2 separate regions of the Homo sapiens genome follow, and region 1 is linked to region 2. The links come from fine-mapping of genetic effects on plasma protein levels. A gene starts in region 2. The other region holds a variant in brackets. All regions are shown on one strand. Distances are between the middles of the regions.

What was found. PIP is the posterior inclusion probability: the model's chance that the variant is causal. Sun 2018 read protein levels with aptamers (SomaScan).
Region 1: its variant is fine-mapped to the plasma level of the PLAUR protein (Sun 2018, PIP 0.95). The variant lies in the coding sequence of PLAUR. If it changes the protein, the assay may bind it differently, which can mimic a change of level.

Annotation. Positions count from the first base shown.
Region 1 is chr19:43,645,841-43,651,358 of GRCh38, forward strand. It overlaps PLAUR (plasminogen activator, urokinase receptor), which reads right to left. Exons shown (of 7, transcript NM_002659.4): 7 at 2,739-3,303. The coding sequence ends at 3,050. Among named protein-coding and RNA genes, the nearest start is that of CADM4, 8.8 kb to the left of the region's middle. The variant A/G (reference allele first, on the strand shown) is at 3,108.
Region 2 is chr19:43,668,383-43,672,499 of GRCh38, forward strand. PLAUR (plasminogen activator, urokinase receptor) reads right to left here and starts at 1,787. Exons shown (of 7, transcript NM_002659.4): 1 at 1,684-1,787. The coding sequence starts at 1,738. It overlaps LOC124904724 (a long non-coding RNA gene), which reads left to right and starts at 382. Exons shown (of 3, transcript XR_007067264.1): 1 at 382-801; 2 at 1,644-2,098. RefSeq lists silencers at 286-515, 556-635 and an enhancer at 1,556-1,855.

The DNA.
Region 1 (5,518 bases), 22 kb before region 2:
ATTTGTGTGTGTGTGTTTTTAATTTTTTATTTTTAAGTATTATGAATACATAATAGTGGTGTATATTTACAGGACATATGTAATATGGTTTTGGGTTTTAGTGTTTTTTTTTTGGAGACAGAGTCTGGCTCTGTTGCCCAGGCTGGAGTACAGTGGTGGGATCATGGCTCACTGCAGCCTTGACCTCCCGGGCTCAAGGGATCCTCCTGCCTCAGCCTCCCATGTAACTAGGACCACAGGCATGCCCCACCACATCCAGCCAATTTTTTTTTATTTTTAGTGGAGATGAGGTCTCACTGTGTTGCCCAGGCTGATCTTGAACTCCTGAGCTCAAGAGATCTTCCTTTCTCACCCTCCCAAAGTGCTAGGACTACAGGCATGAGCCACTGTGCCTGTCCTTCCATGATGTTTTGATATAGGCACACAATGTGTTAGTTTATAAAGTTTGTAATAATTTATCACAGGCAGCCCTAGGAAACTAATATAGCCAAGTTTCCTGTTTCTTCTCTATATCACATCTGCTGGGGCTACATGTCCAAGGTGGCTTCTTCACCCACTTGTCTGGTGCCTGGGCTGAGATGGCTGAAACATCTGGGGCTCTATCTCCACATGGCATTTATACATGAGTAGCTTGGGCTTCCTCACAGCATGGTGGTCTCAGGGCAGTAGTACTTTTACATGGCAACCAGCTTCCCCAGAGTGAGCGTTCTAAGATTCAGAAAGTGAAAAATGAAAGTTTCTTAAAACTTGGTTCCAGAACATAGCACAGCAAAACTTCCACCACATTCTACTGGTCAAAGCAGTCACAGAGTCACTCATATTCAAGAGGCAGAAGTACAGACCTCACTTCTTTAAGCCACTACAGTGACAGGTGGTGATATGTCATTAGAGAAAGCCCTAAACAAGAACCTTGTCCCTCACCTGCCCCCAAATACCATGGAAGATGTCTTTTTTTTTTTTTTTTTTTTTTTGGGGATAGTCTCACTGTGTCATGCAGTGGTGTGATCTTGGCTCACTACAACCTCCTCCTCCTGGGTTCAAGCGATTCTCCTGCCTCAGCCTTCCGAGTAGCTGGAGTTACAGGCACCCACCACCTTACCCGGTTAATTTTTGTAATTTTAGTAGAGACGGGGTTTTGCCAAATTGGCCAGGCTGGTCTCAAACTCCTGCCTCAAGTGATCTGCCCACCTCGGCCTCCCAAAGTGCTGGGATTACAGGCGTGAACCACCACAGCCAGCCGAAGATATCTTATTTTTTCTTCATTAGCCACAAGATTTGATGGGGAATGTAATTTTTGTCTCCATGGGTTGCCTTAGCAAATGATGAGAAGAACATGAATTTTTCAATATTGTGCTCCTAGAGTGCCATTGAAATGGTAGTTCTGTCTCTTTTTCTGACAGTCCTGAGGCATCCCGGGAAATAGAGCCCAGCCTTTATCCCCGGTCCCCAGCACATCAGGGGAAGTGCACTCCTGTCCTTATTCCTCACTGCAGTGCATGCAGGGAGTTCTGGCCATCAGGTTATCTTCTATCCGTCTCCTTTCCCAAAGCATGCTGGGAAATGTGGGGATGTCTCCTTAGAACAACAAAATAGTTGCAACCTTTGAAGTTTAGGAGAAGACTAGAAGGTTAGTGTTCAGTGTGTGATCTGGAAGCTTGCATTTGTAAGAATTAAAGAAAGAGGAGGCCAGGCACGGTGGCTCATGCCTGTAATCCTAGCACTTTGGGAGGCCAAGGTGGGCAGATCACCTGAGGTTGGGAGTTTGAGACCAGCCTGAACAACATGGAGAAACCCTGTCTCTACTAAAAATACAAAATTAGCCGGGTGTGGTGGTGCATGCCTGTAATCCCAGCTACTTGGGAGGCTGAGGCAGGAGAATCCCTTGAACTAGGAGGTGGAGGTTGTGGTGAGCTGAGATTGTGTCATTGCACTCCAGCCTGGGCAACAAGAGTGAAACTCCATCTCAAAAAAAGAAAAGAAAAGAAAAGAAAAAGGAAAAGGAAAGAAACATGAAATGTGGCTTGACGGTGAAGGACAGGTTTATTTTAGAGAAAACCAACCTGAGGGGGGCTTTTGGCTGAGTTAGGTTAGAGAGCCCTTTTTTTTTTTTTTTTTTACAGACTAAGGATATTTAAGAGTTTTGGAAGGGGGTGCTTATCTAGGTTCGGAATGTTTTCATGTGAGGAAAAGTTTATTGTGGGGTTGGAAAGTCTCTGGTCGGAAGGGAGGCTATCTGGGGGTTGGCATGTTTCTGGTCAGAGAGGGGTTTATCTTAGGGTTGGAATGTTTCTGGTTATGCTGATGGTAGCCATTAGGCTGATGTTTTGGGGCTGGATTTAGCTGATTTTTTTTTGAGACAGAGTCTTGCTCTGTCACCCAGGCTGGAGTGCAGTGGTGCAATCTCGGCTCACTGCAAGCTCCACCTCCCGGATTGACGCCATTCTCCTGCCTCAGCCTCCCGAATAGCTGGGACTACAGGCACCCGCCACCACGTCCGGATTTAGCCGATTTTTAATCAAGAGGAACTAAGAATGGTGGTGTTTGTTCAAGATGGCAGTGCTCCTGCTCTGTCAGCATTTGGAGTCCAGAAATAGATGTGGAGGCAGCCCCCAGGAGGACTTCCAACCTAGGCAGGGGCCTCAAACATGACCCCTGATTCCAGGAGCCTGTGAAAAGGTGTCCCCCACCATTTATCCTCCCAAAGATAGACACTACAAAGAAGGGCATACCTGGCCTTGTCCACTGGTACAAAATCTTTATGTAAGTATAAAATAAATAATATGAATATTAATTAATAACAACAACACAACAGCGGCAACAATATTAATAATAACAAGAGCTCTCCCATTGGCCCACGGCCTTCCTCCAGCTTTTCTCTTCTGCTTCACACAACTTTGTGAGATAGCTGTTTTCATAGCTGGGAAAACTGAGGCCCAGAGAGGTCGGCACACTGGCCTGAGGTCACACAGCAAGTCTGTAGGGCTGGGAGCCGAGGGAAGGGCAAAGGGGTCCCCCGGATCCAGCCAGGGCAGAGAGGGGGATTTCAGGTTTAGGTCCAGAGGAGAGTGCCTCCCCACAGTCTGGCAGTCATTAGCAGGGTGATGGTG[A/G]GGCTGAGATGGGCAGGGCCAGGCTGAGGAGCAGCCCCACTGCGGTACTGGACATCCAGGTCTGGGTGGTTACAGCCACTTTTAGTACAGCAGGAGACATCAATGTGGTTCATGCTGAAGGCGTCACCCAGGTGGGCATGTTGGCACATTGAGGCGGTTGCACAGCCTCTTACCATATAGCTTTGGTTTTTCGGTTCTGAGGAAAGAGAAGACGGAGTGAGACTTCCAGCTCCTGGGCCCAGGACTGGAATTCTCCAGTAGGTGACCTGCCACCTTGCAGTGGGTGCCACCTTCACTACCACCTAGAGAAAGCAGCAGTTCTCAGGGCCAGGTGTGGTGGCTCATGCCTGTAATCTCAACACCTTGGGAAGCCAAGGAGAGAGGATAGCTTGAGCCCAGGAGTTCCAGACCAGCCTGGACAACATAGCAAAACTCTGTTTCTACAAACATAAAAAAGAAAAAAACAGCTGTAGTCCCAGCTACTTGGGAGGCTGAGATGAGAGGATCACTTGAGCTCAGGAGATGGAGGCTGTGGTGAGTTATGATCACGCCACTGCACTCCAGCCTGGGTAACAGAGTGAGACCCTGTTTCAAAAAACAAATAAAAAGAAAGAAAGGAAGGAAGGGAGGGAGGGAGGGAGGGAAGAAGGAAGGGAGGAAGGGAAGAAGGGAAAGAAAAGAAAGAAAGAGAGAGAGAGGGAGGAAGGAAGGAAGGAGAAGGGAAAGAAGGAAGGAAGGGAGGAAGGAAGGAAGAAAGAAAGAAAGAAAGGGAAAGAGAGACAGAGAAAGAAAAGGAAAGAAAAAAAAAGAAAGAAAGGAAGCGAGCAGCGGTTCTTAAAGTGTGGCTCAGGGACCCCAGAGACCCTTTCAGGAGATCTGTGATTTCACATGGCTTTTTCACTCTCATAAGTGTACAATGGGCTTTTCCAAAAACTCCAGGACATGTGATATTGCAAGAGACTGAAAGCAGAAGCTTCCATGAGGACCCAGCTGTCTTCTATTAAGCTGGACATTAAAGAGATGTGCAACACAGCAAAATAATGCCAGTTTTCTCATTACGCTTTTTTTTTGTTTTTTTTTTTGAGATGGAGTCTCACTCTGTCACCCAGGCTGGAGTGCAGTGGCACGATCTCGGCTCACTGCAACCTCTGCCTCCCGGGTTCAAGCAATTCTTCTGCCTCAGCCTCCCAAGTAGCTGGGACTACAGGCGCGACCACCATGCCCAGCTAATTTTTGTATTTCTAGTAGAGACGGGGTTTCACCATATTGGCCAGGCTGGTCTCGAACTCCTGACCTTGTGATCTGCCCGCCTTGGCCTCCCAAAGTGCTGGTATTACAGGCGTGAGCCACCGCGCCTGGCTGGTTTTTTTTTTGTTGTTTCTTTGTTTGTTTTTTTAAGACAGGGTCTCGCTCTGTTGCCCAGGCCGCAGTGCAGTGGTGCAATCTCCGTTCACTGCAACCTCCACCTCCCAGGCTCAAGTGACCCTCCCACCTCAGCCTCCCAAGCAGCTGGGACTACAGGCATGCACCACCATGCCCAGCTAACTTTTGTATTTTCTGTAGAGACAGGATCTTGCTATGTTGCCCAGGCTGGTCTCAAATCCCTAGGCTTAAGTGACCCGCCCACCTTGGCCTCCCAAAGTATTGGGATTATAGGCATGAGCCACCATGCCTGGCTATCATTACATTTTTTCTTTGGAAACTATACTTATTTTTCATTAAAATGTTATTTATCTTAATGTGTAATGAGTTTTTATTGTTATAAGATGAATTCATAAATAAATCTTTAAAGATTTCTCAGTTTTGGCTGGGCACGGTGGCTCACATCTGTAATCCCAGCACTTTGGGAGGCCGAGGCAGGCAGATCATGAGGTCAGGAGATCGAGACCATCCTGGCCAACATGGTGAAACCCCGTCTCTACTAAAATTACAAAAATAAGCTGGGCATGGTGGCTCATGCCTGTAATCCCAGCTATGCAGGAAGCTGAGGCAGGAGGATTGCTTGAACCCAGGAGGGGGAGGTTGCAGTGAGCTGAGACCATGCCACTGCACTCTAGCCTGGCGACAGAGCAAGACTCCATTTCAAAAAAAAAAAAAAAAGATTTCTCAGTTTTAATTTTAATTTAATTTTATTTTATTTTATTTTTTGGGACGGAGTTTCACTCTTGTTGCCCAGGCTGGAGTGCAATGGCACAATCTTGGCTCACCGCAACCTCTGCCTCCCAGGTTCAAGTGATTCTCCTGCCTCAGCCTCCCGAGTAGCTGGGATTATAGGCATGTGCCACCATGCCCGACTAATTTGTATTTTTAGTAGAGATGGGGTTTCACCATGTTGGTCAGGCTGGTCTTGAACTCCCGACCTCAGGTGATCTACCCACCTCGGCCTCCCAAAGTGCTAGGATTACAGGCGT
Region 2 (4,117 bases):
TGACCTTATCTTCCCGCCCCCTAGCTCCTCCCCGATGCCATAACCCCGCCCCTAGCTCCTCCTCGAGGCTTTAGTCCCTCCCTCTAGCTCCTCCTTGAGATTCTAACTTCGCCCTTTAGCTCTCCCCGCCCCTAGTTTTCCCCTGAGGTCATAACTCCGCCCCAGTCCCTTCTTGAGGTTTCAGCCCCACCCTGTAGCTCCTCCCCGAGGTCGTAACCCCCGCCCCTTGGCCCCTTGAGGTCCTAGCCCAGCCCCGTAGCTCCTCCCCAAGCTTATAACCCCGCCCCTAGCCCCTCCTTGAGGTTCCAGCCCCGCCCTCTAGCTCCTCCCCGAGGTTATAATCCTGCCCCTCAAGAGTCTAGTCCCACCTTCTAGCTCCTCCCGAGGTTATAACTCCGCCCTCTGGTTACGCCTCGAGGTTATAACCCCGCCCTCTGGCTCCGCCTCGAGGTTCTAGCCCCGCTCCTAGCTCTTCCTCGGTCTGTAACCTCTCCCGTAGCTCTTCCTTGAGGTTCCAGCCCCGCCCTCTGGCTCCTCCCCGACACTCTCTCCCCGCCCCAGGCTCCGCCCCGAGATTGCAGCCCAGTCCCTAGGCCCGGTCCCCGACCTCCGGGCCTTCCCGGACATCCCTTTCCAGCTGCGCGTTCGGAGTATCCCGGAGCTGTTACTCATTCCCGGCCTCCCGCGGTCTCGAGCGCTTTCCGGGTTATTCATCGCGGCCCCAACACCCTGTGGCCACCCGCCCTGACTCAGTTCCTTCTCGAATTCCTCGACCCAGAGCCCCCCACATTTTCCGGGGAAGTAAGTGAGAGTCGCCTCAGTGAGAGGGAAAGGTCCTGAGGGACAGTCCCGGGTCTCCAGCACTGGCTCTGCGCCGCTCAGTCAGCCTCCCTTTGGGCCTTTTGTAAAAGGGGGTCCTGTCCCCCCGTTTCTCAGAGGGGGAGACCCAGCAGCGTGGAGAGCGCTGGGGGGCGCTGCAGGGTCAGATCCTGCGTATTCAAGCACTGGCTGTGTGATTTTAGGCCAGTTATCTAACCTCTCTGTGCCCTAGTTTCCTCTGCGAAACGAAATTAATAAAGTCCCATCGCCTAGTTTGAAATTGCAAGGAAGAGGCTTCGAAGAACTCCATTTAAAAAAAGAACACTTGGGCCGGGCGCGGTGGCTCACGCCTGTAATCCCAGCAGTTTGGGAGGCCGAGGCAGGTGGATCATCTGAGGTCAGGAGATTGAGACCATCCTGGCTAACAGAGTGAAACCCGGTCTCCACTAAAAATACAGAAATTAGCCGGGCGCGATGGCAGGCGCCTGTAATCCCAGCTACCCAGGAGGCTGAGGCAGGAGAATCGCTTGAACCCGGGCGGCAGAGGTTGCAGTGAGCCGAGATCGCGCCACTGCACTCCAGCCTGGGCGACAGAGTGAGACTCTGTCAAAAAAAAAAAAAAAAAAAAAAAAGCACTCACTAAATTATGTAAAGCTAAATGCCTTTGCTCCACTAATATTTCCTTAGCTACTGAGTGCCAGGTACTGCGCCGCGTGGCGTTGCACAAAGCACGAGAATTACTATTATTTGATTAGGGAGGATGCTGAGGACTGAACCGCATTCCTCCAACTCATCCTCTGACAACCCCCAACCCCCTCAATTAGACCCTGTTCCAGGCGCAGGCGTTCGGGACCCAGCCCCTACCTGGGACGCAGGTGTGGAGCAGCAGCAGCAGCGGCAGCAGCGGCGGGTGACCCATGTCGCGAGGGCAGCTCCTGTGCGCGGGGTCCCTGCACGTCTTCTCTCCTTCTGGCCTCAGGAAGGAGGCAGTTTTGTGGCCCCAGGGACTCCTCCCAGACGTTTTGCGAAAGAGCGAGTCAGCCCCAGATGCGTGGGCGCCTCCCCCTCCTCCCGTACGAACCTCCTCCGCCACAAACTTCCCTTCCCGGGGCGCGGCCGGCTGGTGGTGAAGGGGCTGGCTCGGCCCTGACTCATGGAGTTGTGATCACAGCTCTGTCCCCAGATTGCCTGGGTGCAAATCCCAGTTCTCTCTCTTCCTAACGTGGGACCCGGGGCAATCGCTCTCCACTGCTGTAAAATGAGGATAAAAACTTTGACGGTAAATATGAATGTGGCTGATTATTTGGCTAACAGGATTTTTGTTAGTTTTGTCAGGAGGGATACTGGTATTTTGGAAAATGTCCTTATCTAGAGATGCATCCTGAAATATGCATCTCTTAAACACTTAAAACACTTAACCCTTGCTTTGCTTCCCGCTGTGCCCCCAGCTCCTGGACCAGTGCCCAGCACGAAGTAGGTCCTTGGTAAATGTTAAAGGAATGTGTTGAGCCCTCCATTTTGGCCAGCAGCTATTCCAGGCATTGCACCTACATTAAAACACTTAATGGTGAAACCCCGTCTCTACTAAAAATACAAAAATTAGCCGGGCGTAGTGGCGTGTGTGTGTTACTTAGGAGGCTGAGGCAGGAGAATCGCTTGAACCCGGGAGGCGGAGGTTGGGTTGCAGTGAGCCGAGATCGTGCCACTGCACTCCAGCCTGGCAACAGAACAAGACTCCTTCTCACAGAAAAAAAAAAAAAAAAAAAAAAAGACACTTCAGCCAAAAAAGTAGATATCACTGTTACGACAATGGCTGTATGCTTAGGTGGGATTCTGGTTTTTGTTTGTTTGTTTGTTTTTGCAGATGCTTACTAGAGTATTTAGTGGTGAATGTTATTGATGTCTGCATTTTTTGTTGTTGTTGTTTTGGGGATTTTTGTTTTGTTTTTTCTTTTTCTTTTGTTTTCATTTTGATGTCTGTATTTATTTTATAATATTTTAGAAGAGGTCAGATGAGGTGGCTCATGCCTGTAACACCAATGCTTTGGGAAGCCAAGGCAGGAGGATCACTTGGGGCCAGGAGTTCAAGATCAGCTTGGGAAACATAAAGAGCCCTCATCTTTCCAAAAGAAATTAAAAATAAAATAAAATTAGCTGGGTGCAGTGGCCCGTACTTGTAGTCCTAGGTAGTTGGGAGGCTAAGGTGGGAGGACCGCTTGAACCTGGGAACTGGAAGCTGCAGTGAGCTATGATTGCACCACTGCACTCCAACCTGGGCAACAGAGCGAGACCCTGTCTCAAAAAAATAATAAATAAATAAATACTTGAGTAGAAAATAAAGGCAAAATAGCCAAATGGTTGTATCAATTATATAAAGGTAATCAGTATATAAGGGCATATTATGCCATTCTGTCTCCTTTTCTGTGGGTTTGAAAAGGCTTATAATAAGTTTTTTCTTTCTTTTTATTATTTATTTATTTATTTATTGAGACGAAGTCTCACTCTGTCACCCAGGCTAGAGTGCAGTGGTGCAATCTCGGCCACTGCAATCTCCGCCTCCTGGGTTCATGCAATTCTCCTGCCTCAGCCTCCTGAGTAACTGGGATTACAGGGGCACGCCAGCACACCCGGCTAATTTTTGTATTTTTAGTAGAGATGGGGTTTCACCATGTTGGTCAGGGTGGTCTCGAACTCCTGACCTCAGGTGATCCACCTGCCTTGTCCTTCCAAAGTGCTGGGATTACAGGCATGAGCCACTGCACCTGGCCAAGTTTTTTTTTTTTTTAAGTAAAATAAAATACTAAAGATAAAATTGTCTCCCCGTCTTAGGATGCATCTAACTAAACAGAGCAATTTAATGTAGGTGCAATGCCTGGAATAGCTGCTGGCCGAAATGGAGGGCTCAACACATTCCTTTAACATCTACCAAGGACCTACTTTGTGCTGGGCACTGGTCCAGGAGCTAGGGGCACAGCAGGACGCAAAGCAAAGTTCCCACCTTTTGTTGTGTTGACAGTGGGGAGCAGATATGTGTTATCTAATCTTTCACTGTCTGAGAGGGATAAGCAAACTGGAGAAAACAAAGCAGGCTGAAGGAAGTATCTGGGTGCAAATGAGGTGTGAGCTGTTTTAGGTGGGTGATCCAGGAGGGGTTCCCTGAGCAAGTGGCATTCAAGCAGAGGCTGAATGCAGTGAGGGAAGAAGTAGGGCAGATGGGCAGGGAACCTTTCCAAGGAGCAGGAACAACCAGTGCAAAGGCCTTGAGGTGGAAGCCTGATGAGATTCTAGGAACAGAAGA